Regions from separate parts of the Homo sapiens genome. Here region 1 is linked to region 2. Evidence: fine-mapped expression QTL. Tissue or cell type: monocytes after LPS. Region 2 holds a variant in brackets; the other region holds the start of a gene. All regions are shown on one strand. Distances are from middle to middle.

Evidence for each region. PIP is the estimated chance that this variant, and not a neighbour inherited with it, causes the effect.
Region 1: it holds the start of KIAA0232, and the variant in region 2 is fine-mapped to the expression of KIAA0232 in monocytes after LPS (Fairfax 2014, PIP 0.95). The same link has a PIP of 0.9 or more in monocytes.

What each region holds. Positions count from the first base shown.
Region 1 is chr4:6,780,742-6,785,741 of GRCh38, forward strand. It overlaps KIAA0232, which reads left to right and starts at 1,986. Exons shown (of 10, transcript NM_014743.3): 1 at 1,986-2,100. RefSeq lists silencers at 1,366-2,245, 2,306-3,075.
Region 2 is chr4:6,881,517-6,886,775 of GRCh38, forward strand. KIAA0232 reads left to right here. Exons shown (of 10, transcript NM_014743.3): 10 at 1-2,648. Among named protein-coding and RNA genes, the nearest start is that of TBC1D14, 26 kb to the right of the region's middle. The variant T/C (reference allele first, on the strand shown) is at 2,572.

The DNA of each region.
Region 1 (5,000 bases), 100 kb before region 2:
CAAATCCTATTAATACAAGATAATTCCTACTTAAAAACCTCTTCTTCCAAGAAGTCTTCAGGTTCTACTAGTTCATGGTAGAACTAGTATAAAAACTGGTCTGTGGCAAAGTAATAAAAAAAAAGGTCAATAAACTCTGTGTGTGTGTGTGTGTGTGTGTGTGTCACTATACAGGTGCCAACCGTGTTTCCTTTCTTCAGAACTGAGATATACTGTTATTACTTTTCAAAAAATTTTGCTGTTAATACTCTTTTGTAAAATATGATGTAGATGACAGATATGTCACCAATGTAGCAAAAATCAAAAGCTGACCATCCTTTGCAAATCCCCCATACTTTGGTCTGTGAAATCCTGGAGCCTGGAGGCACCTGTGAACTAGGCTCTGAAGCTCTGCTACTCTCCCCTCCTCTACTCCCAAGTGGCCCTGGATTTCCCATACCCTTTCCATTCTCGACACTGTTTTTAGAGTTTGAGTTCCAGGAGCACAGGGACTGTGCGTTCCCGGCACTGAGCCAGGTCCACAACAAGCACTCAGAAGAAACTGACTGAATGAACGTGTGATTTATGACGATATACATTCACCTGAGCGAATGCTCAGAGAATACAATTAGAAGCAAACTGGTTAAGGGAGACAGTAGTGTAAAGGAAACGAAACCCCATATTTCAGAGCCAGGAGCCTGGGTTCACATTCTGTCTCCTGCAAGAGGTGGTTTAGCAAGGTCAGAAGGCCCTGTCCACTCGGTAGCAGCCAGGCTTGGGTGAAATCACTTTCTTTCAGCCTCAGCTTCCTCACCAGTTAAATGCGGATGACAAAGATTTGTCCCACGATTTTTGTAAAGAACAAAAAGATATGTTCGCAGAAAAAACACTCTGTAGATAGTACGTAAGCGACAGTTCCTCGGTTTGTCCTTCCATGGATGCATGGAGCATCTAGCCAACTCAGCAGATGACCCCTCTCCAGTGTTTCAGCATCTGCTTCTCCCACAAGCCCGTGAGCTGGTGCAGGAAATTCTCCAACAGGTTCTGAACAGAAAAGCATAGTGCCTGGCACCTAGTGGGTGCTGCATAAATGAACAAATGACCCCAGGTAAGTCACTCCTCCCATTGGACCTCTTTCTTCTAAGTAATCTCCCTTCCTTTTCCAGGTCCATGATACTTATTTGCTTTTTTAGAACAGGCCTAGGAGTCACATTTAGGGAAGGTAGGTGGCTGTGAAGACACTTTGATTAAAAGGTTAATGCACATTTTTGGTTTCCACTTTCGAAGCTTCCAGAATTTATTTTTGCCTAGTTAATAAAAAAAGAGCCATGTCACATTTCTTTAGCTTGTCTTCTGGGTTCCTTAACAACAACAACAAAAAATTAAAGTCTTTATTTTAAGCCGCCTACTCCAGCCATCCCAGGACGCGGCGAGGAGGGGGCGCGGACAGGTGGCGCGCGAGCCCGGGAAGGCGGGGGCTGCACCGGGCCGCGGGCGGGGCCGTGCACGCCGAGCCCCACTTCCCCAGCGCGGGCCGGGGGCGGGGCGCGGCGGCAGAGTTCGGGGGCTTCTGCCGAGGGCAGTCCCACGTGCCCCTCCGCGGGAGACGTCTCCTCTCCGACGCCCAGCACGCTGGGGGGCTCCCGCTTCCTGCCTGCCCTCTCTACTGCTTGCCCTCTCACCTCCCAGCGGCTTCCGCCGCCCCGGCCAAGCTGCACGGCGCGTCCCGGGCCCTAGACCCCCACCCGCCAGGCACCAGCCCCGGCCTGTCCCCTCGCGCCGTCAGCCCGCGGCCCACCGCCCGCGCGCGCCCGCAGCCCAGCCGGAGGGAGGGGCAGGGGCGGGGACCGGCCGGCGCTGATGTAATCCCGGCACCCGGGCGGAAGGATATGGAGCGCGCCCCTGGTTGGCGGGGCGCTGAGGCCAGTTGCCGGGTAACGGAGCGGAGCGGCTCCCGGCGCGCCGCCTCCCGCCCTCCGCGGAGTGGCGCTGGGGCCGCCGCCGCCGCTTTACGTAAGGCGCAGGCCAGGGCCGCCCGGCGCTCGGCAGCCGCCCGCAGCCCCTCGGAGCCAGAGGAGAGGCGCCCCCGCCGGCCGCCGCGCCGCCCGGCAGCCTCGGCAGGTACTGCGGGCAGGCGGCGGGGAGGGAGGGCGCGGAGCAGCCCCTCGGCCGGGTGGGCGCGGGCCGGGGAGGCCGGACGCTCGCCGCCGTGGGGCTCCGGGGCCAGCCCGAGGGAGGCCGGGCCGCAGCCGAAGGCTTCGGGGTCAGCCCAAGGGAGACAGGGCCGCCGCCGTGGGCTCTGGGGCCAGCCTAAGGGAGGCCGAGCCGCCGCCGAGGGCTCCGGGGCCAGCCTGAGGGAGACCGGGCCGCCGCCGGGGGCTCCGGGGCCAGCCTGAGGGAGGCCGGGCCGCCGCTGATGGCTCCGGGGCCAGCCTAAGGGAGACCGGGCCGCTGTTGATGGCTCCGGGGCCAGCCGAGGGAGGCCTGACCGGCCCCGATCCTGGTGGTGCCCGGGCGTGCGGGTGAGCTGTGGGCCCTGGGACCCCCGCCCCGACCCCAGGACGCCGGGACACCAGCTTGCGGCTCTTGCGCCCGGGTGGGCTGTGGACGATGAGTCCGCACAATGGGTTGCCGTTGGCTGCCTCCTGCCTGGGGCAGGTGTCGCCGCGCCGGGGCGGCTCTTCTAGGGGAGACGAGGCGGGGGTGCTTAGACTTGATAGGACGTAGAGCCCCGAAAGTGGGCGCGGGAGGAAGGCTTCGGCCGGTGGGAGGCGCCCGGCGTCCCCGGCAGCGGGGTCAGGCCGGCAGCCTGGGCCGCTCGCTCGCGTTCCCTCCGTTCCCCTCCCCTCCAGCATTGTCCTTTTGGGGCCCCGGGAAGGGAAAACCGCCGGGCGGGGGAGGAGGGCCGCAGGCGGGCGGGGCCGGGAGGCCGGCTGAGCGACTGGCGCGCCGGCCTATGGCGCGGGGCGCGGCGCGGGGGGCGGGCCTGGCGGGCGGGGCCGGTGCGGCGCAAGGTTTGGCGAAGGTTACAGCTGGAGCTAGGAGTGACAGGCCCACAGTCATCCGTGCGCTGCGCGGCAAACCCTGTCGCGAGGGCGCCCCGAGTTGCTGCGGGGCCTGATCCGGCTCCTTTCCAACAATACGCGTCTGCAGCCGGCATTTCTAGAGCTCTCTGCTTCTTCCCGCTGGAGAAACCAGTGTGTGTCGTGTTGGAATGCTTCGTCTTGCCCTAGAATTCAGCTTGCGTCTTGTGGTGCGCAGGTGACAGGACCTGCCGAACTCTTGGTACAGACCCCTAAATCATGGCAGAACTGTCTTGATTTCTTTTTTGCCACCTTTCCGTTTTTGTCCTCTATAGGCAAGCTATAAAGATTTAACCCAGTTAAAAACAGGAGGGAGATTCAGCGGAGAGGAGGCATGCGAGATTCTTTGGAAAAAATTATATAAATGTAGTTCTTGCTAATAATTACCTGGGTTGGATACTTTGACTTACTGTTCAAGTTCCTAAGAAGGGATTTTACATTTCTGGGTCTTGTTTTAAAAACTGTTAGAAAGCTCGTGAGGGGGTAGGGACAAGCAGTTTTGGTAATAGGCGATGCTGTGGATAAAACTGTGCGGTAAAATGCCCAAGCTAGATTCTTCCTATGCAAAATAAGACCCGTTCCAGAACACTTTGACCATTTCGTGGACTTAGAATTTAAAGGCGGGTGAGGGCGGGGGGGGAGGAGGAGCGGATTCTATCACTCTGCATCCTCAAGGTCAAATATTCTTCCATCAGTTATTTTGGATTGAACCATTCTTAAATAGGTCTCAGGATCTCTATGTCGCTTCCTTATGACAGAACCTATTTCCGAGAGTGTGCCTTTGCATATCTATAGAAGCTCCTTTCACTTAATATATCTTATAACTCAGATTCAATTGCTGTACTTGCTAAATAATGCATTTTTAATCATTCAAAAAGTGGTTTACAGCTTCCTTGGGTATAATGGTTTTTATGTAAGCCCGTTACATCAGTGAAATGCCAGTTTTTAAACATTGAAGGGAAGGGAGAATATTATTCTTATTTATTTCCATAGGAAGTAGAATTCAAAGTGCAGGTGCTTTTTTGTTTGCTTTGGAGAAAAAGTATAGGTCTTTAACATGACGTTAACAGAAGTCAAATCTAAGGATAATTAGCTTGTTATGCAAGTTGCAAACATTTAAGAAGATCAGATGAATTTTTTTTTTTTTTTTTTTTGAGACGGAGTCTCGCTCTGCCGCCCAGGCTGGAGTCCGCGATCTCGGCTCACTCACTGCAACCTCCGCCCGCCGGGTACAAGCGAGTCTCCTGCCTCAACCTCCCGAGTAGCTGGGACTACAGGTGCATGCCACCACCCCCGGCTAATTTTTTGCATTTTTAGTAGAGATGGGGCTTCACCGTGTTAGCCAGGATGGTCTTTCTCTCCTGACCTCGTGATCCGCCTGCCTCAGCCTCCCAAAGTGCTGGGATTACAGGCGTGAGCCACCGCGCCTGGCTGATTAGATGGATTTTTAACACTTCCAGTGGTAATATAGGGTAATGTAGCTAGCCTACTCTGTGCTATGTTGTACGGTAGCACTCTTCAAAAGAAATTAGATTGTTCTTGTTCTTTATTTTTCATTGTGTGGAAAAGTGCTGAGCCTGCGCTTTGTCCTTGTTTTTGTAGCATTTGACTTGGCAGTTAATGGCTTGTGAGCTAATTTCCTCATCTGTAGAATGGGAAGATTGATGACACCTGTTTCACAGAATAGTTGGGATGATCACTTGAGGGAAGACGTGAAATGTCGTCAAGACTCAAACCCTTTAAAAATACTCGCCTAGTGTAAGTGTTAAAACCTCAGATTACTTGCTTTGCTTAAAGTTTTTAACTTTGTCTTCAGGCTCCTCGCCACCCCTTCCTATCCATTCTTTGCCTGGCTGCCAGAGTCATCTTTCCTGAGCTCAGATCTTGTCAGTCTCTGGCTCAGTAGGCTTCTAAGACTGCCTGTGGTTTGGAGCTTAG
Region 2 (5,259 bases):
GAGGTGTGCTTTTCAAGACTCACCAAATACTGTGTTTTCTCTCTTAGGATTTCTTTTCCCCTAAAGTATCACGGAAGATACTATGGTTCGTGACTTTCTTGCTAACTGAAGAAGCCAAGGATTTGGGGTGTGGGGTCGTATGCGAGACACAGTGGGGTAAGGGTGCATACCCCACCCCTTACCTGCTCTCATACTGCAGTTACATTTACACCAAAACCCCATGCAGGGTTCTTTGTGGTGAGTGTTCCATACGTGCTAAGGACCTTAGTTACAGATTGTTACTTTCTGGTGACCTATGTTGAATTGAAACCCCCAAAACTTGAAATTGTGAACATTTGACATGCAGTAAAGGCCACCTCATCACCCAGAGAAATCTTTGGCTGCTGCAGCTAGCCGCTTCTTGGCTGTGATGTAGTATAGCTTCGATCTCATTTTGTGTTTGAGAGAATGTTCTGGGCAAGTTCTGTGTGTGGTGGGTTGGGGCGGGTAGAGTCATGAGTTTTCCACATCCCTGTGTGGTGGTTTTGCTGACTGTCGCTCCGTGGGACTGGCTCCCGTTTCTCCTTGGTGAGCCCGGGGAGCCGGCGCATCTTGTGAGTCGCGTCTGTGCATGGCGATCCGCTCCTCCGGCTCTCATGGCATTGTGCCACAGGCAGAGGCCAGGAGGAGCAGTATGTGCACAGCCGAAACATTTTACATTTTTTACATTGTTTTTCTTTTTTAACCAACTCATTGTTTAAAAAACAAAAACAAAAAAAACCTAATCTGTGAAATCAGCGTAGCATGCCTGGAGCATCAGGAATGGCAGAAAAGTCTGATGCGCTCTAGACAGCTTCACCACTCATTTGGGCAGGCAGTAAACACACATATAATTTATTAGCTGGGAGCTGAACTGGCTGTGAAATCTATGATTTGCTTTGAACATTTGGGTTTTGTTGCCTTTTTCTTAATTGATAACACAGAAAAGAAAGTACCATCAAAGACTGTGGAGTCATTGAGGGTCTGTGTGTCCTCACCGAGAGGGACCTGGTGTGCCCGCCGGGTCGATCTTCCCACGTGTTAGGGTTTATTTTTATACAACACATTTTTTGACACTTTAAGGTGGGTGGGTGTGTGTGTGTGTGTGTGTGTGCGCGCGTGCGCGCGCGCATGTGTAAGGTTTTATGTTGCTGTTATTTATTTACGAACTTCAGATACGTTTTTATGTATTTTTCATTCTTCTGGAGCTTCCTAAAAATTGATAAGCATCTGCACTGAAATATAATTTAACAGCAAAAGTAAAAAAGGATTGAAAGTTGTAAATTCCTCATATCACTACAGTGACGATTATTCTAGAAATCGTTGCTTGTGTAGCAAAGACCAAATAAATAGATTTCAGACACAACCTTGAGCACAGTTGATTTTGGACAGCTGCTGTTTATTAGGAAAGGGCTCCAGGTGGCAAAGGTGCACACTTCCTCAGACACAGGTGAGAAGATGCAGCACCTTCCACAGGTGAATGGGACGGATTCGAAGTGAGCAAAGGGATTCACAAATTATGTATTTATTTGTTTTCATAGTTAAGTAGCTGAAGCTCAGAGGCTTTCAGCAACAGAGATGAAAGTGTGGCTTTTTAGTTTTGTGAATGGATGATCACAAAGAAAAAGCATTTTTAAAAAGTTGGCAAACGCTGAAACGCACTGTGGTATGAAGCGCATTGCATTTCCATAGCACTGAAGTACCAGTTTCCATTCCTGGGCTGAGATTGTTTTTCCCGTGGTTGTATTGTTCTGATTTCACGTACACCAGAGTAACTGATTTTTTTTTGTTTGTTTTCTTGTGGAGTTAACACCAAATAAAAATTGTAAAAAACAGTTTGTTGTTTTTATTTCTCATAGCAAAGCTTCTTTTGTAAAGAACTCCAGCTTCCTTTTACTCATGAGCATCCGTGGAAGAGCAAGTGCCCAGGTTACATTTGTTCTAGATGGAGGTCATTTAGCTCTCATTGCAGACACTGCTGAAAACATTGTGCAGCTTTGCTAGGGAAGAAAGTGGTGTGGCCTGCTGAGAAATCAGCGGCTCCTCCCCATCTCACCCCCAGCACACGCAGGGACTACTACCTGAGTCTGCAAAACACATAGCATTTTTGTCCGTGGATGGTACACAAAGCTCAATCTTTTTGTTTTCTTCTGGGGAAAAAATTAAATCTTTATATGTTAATATGATTGATATTCATTGTGCAAAAAAAATCAGTGTGTTTTTAAAGAAGTATAAGGGAAAAGGAAAACTCATATGTCCTTCTGTCACTCTGAGACATACACTGGTAACATCTGTGCAAGCCCCTTTCCAGGATTCTGAATGTACAGTATATATGAATGCATACACAGAGAAATTTACATTCAAGAGTGTACTATACTTGTTCTTCTATAACATCAGAAATAGGTTTTTACTCAGATGTCTTCATGTCGGTAATTATAGAACTACATAATTATTTTTATAGCTGTATTATGTAGATTTAACAGGTTCCTCATTGATAAAACAATGTTTTTTTGGTTGTTTATTCAGTATCTGAATAACGTTTCTATGGACATC[T/C]GTAAACATGTATGAGGGGACTTTTAAAAGTTCATGGAAAATGGAATTAAAAGAAAAATAAAAAAATATAAACTTTATTTCTCAACATAAGTTCCATCAAGTTCAAGATACTACTATAAGACATAATACCAACCATTCAGTCTATCCCTAAAGAACTGAGGCTCCTGGAAATTTCACCTTGTCAGTGTAGTCTCTGCATTGTGAACTGAAGAGAAATGGGTGCCCTTTACAGCTTTTTAAGATTAGGAAACAAAAAGTCAGAAGAAGCCCAATCAGGACTGCAAAGTGGATGCCTGATGATTTCCCATCAAAACTCTTGGAAAATGGCTCTCGTTTGCTGAGAGGAATGAGCAGGAGGAGCACTGTCATGGTGGAAAAGGGCTCTGGTGAAACTTTCCTAGGCATTGTTCTGCCACAGCTTTGGCTAACTTTCTCAAAACACTCGTCATAAGCAGATGTTAACATTCTTTGGGCATCTGGAAAGTCAGCACATACACAGTGCTTTGAGCATCCCAGAAAATGGTTGCCTGGCCTCTGCTTTTGACCAGTCTGCATTTGCTATGAGGAGACCCCTCCCACCTCTCGGTAGCCAGTGCTGTGATCACAATCACATTGTCTTCAGGATTGTGCTGGTAAAGCCATGTTCCATCTCCTGTTACAGTTCTCAGAGGAAATGCTTTAGGATGTTGATTCCTCTTGTTGAAAGTTTCCCCTGAAAGCTCTGCTGCTGTCTCCAGCTGATCTGAGTGCAGTGGTTTGGTAGCCATTGAGTGGCAAGTTTGCTCAACGTTAATTTTTCAGTCAGATCGTGTAAGCTGAACCATCTGAGGTGTCTGTGGTGTTGGGTGTTGTTTCTGCTGTTAATCATTGGTCCTCTTTGATTCAGGCATGAATAAGATTAATTTTTTCCTCACAAATTGATGAGGAGGTCTTCACCATTGTCTCATCCCTTCTTAAAACAAGTTACCCATTGGCAAACCTCTGATTTTGGCTGGGGGCGGGGCATTGTCCCCATAAGCTTTTTTGTAAAAAAATCATTGATTTTGGGCCAGGTGTGGTGGCTCACGCTTGTATTCCTAGCACTTTGGGAGGCTGAGGTGGGTGGATCACGAGGTCAGGAGATCGAGACCATCCTGGCCAACATGGTGAAACCCTGTCTTTATTAAAAATACAAAAAAATTAGCCAGGCGTGGTGGCATGTGCCTGTAGTCCCAGCTACTCAGGAGGCTGAGGCAAGAGAATTGCTTGAACCTGAGAGGCGGAAGCTGCAGTGAGCCGAGATCACGCCACTGCACTCCAGCCTGGGCAACAGAGCGAGACTCTGTCTCAGGAAAAAAAAAAAAAAAAATCACTGATCTCACCATTCTTCCACCCAAGCATCACCATAAATTTGATGTCCTTGCTTCCATTTTTAGCAGAATTCATGTTGCTCTGATAGGTGCTCTTTTCAAACAGTCATACCCTTCTTAGTGCCTCAAAGTAGATCTTAAGACATGTTATAACAAGTTAGTACAAGTTTATTTTGGTGCAAAAAATTTTTGAAATCTGTGCATAGCTCCTTTTTGGAGACAGTCTCACTGTGTCACCTAGGCTGGAGTGCAGTGGCATGATCACTGTCATCTCAAACTCCTGGGCCTAGTGATCCTCCTGCCTCAGCCTCCCTAATAGCTGGGACTATAAGCACACCTCACCATGCCCAGCTCATTTTTTAATTTTTTGTAGGAACAGGGTTGCCCAGGCTGGTCTCAATTACTTGGCCTCAATCCATCCTCCTCACCTCAGCCTCCCAAAGTGCTGGGATTACAGGCCTGAGCCATTGCACCTGGCAATAGCACAGGCCCTAAAGGATGTAGTTGGCCCACCCCCCAACACCATTTTTAAAGTCCTTACCCCACCGATTTGCAGGAGTGCAGTGATGTCATCTCGGTTCACTGCAGCCTCCACCTCCCGGAGCTCAGGCAGTCCTCCCCTCTCGGGCCAGGAATTCTGACACCACAGCTAAGTATTTTTAGAACAGCCCGGGGTGGAGTGTAAAGGCTTCTGCCTTTTTCACTGAAAGTGCTCTGGCCACTGCCCTGTGTGCCTGCTGCTGCTGCCACTACAGATGCCACTCTGGCCATGAGTGGCTGTGGCAGTGCCCAGGAGGCCTGCATCTACCAGCAGTCCAGGAACAGAAAGGAAGCCCCTGCCCCTGGTTCCTCTTGAAAGCAGCCAGTCGGATGGCGTCACAAGCTGGCCACTGTTGTGAACGCAGAGATTAGGAAATGAGCTGTCGTTTCAGAGCCCGCTGCTAGCCTTGTGCCACTGGTGTGGTTAATTAATAGCATGTTCAGGGACGGTTGCCTCAATTATCAAGCTGGTAATGATGCTGCCACCTAACGTTTGGTTGGCGTTGCTATTGTCTGTGCTAGTCATAGTCAACAGCTGACACTGAGGGCTTACTGGCTGCCACGCATTCTAAGCGCTCTTGAGTGTTAACTAGCAACCCTATGAGGGAGCTACAGCTGCTCTGTTTTACAGATGAGTAAACTGAGGCACAATGGGGCATTAGGCACTTGCAGTCTCACACTTGGTGGATGCTGGAGCCCGAATTCACCTTGGGCACTGACTGCAGAGTCCATTTAACACTGAAACCTCCATCTCACAAAATCCCACTCATTAAGTTACGTATTGTCTCTGGGCACGGTG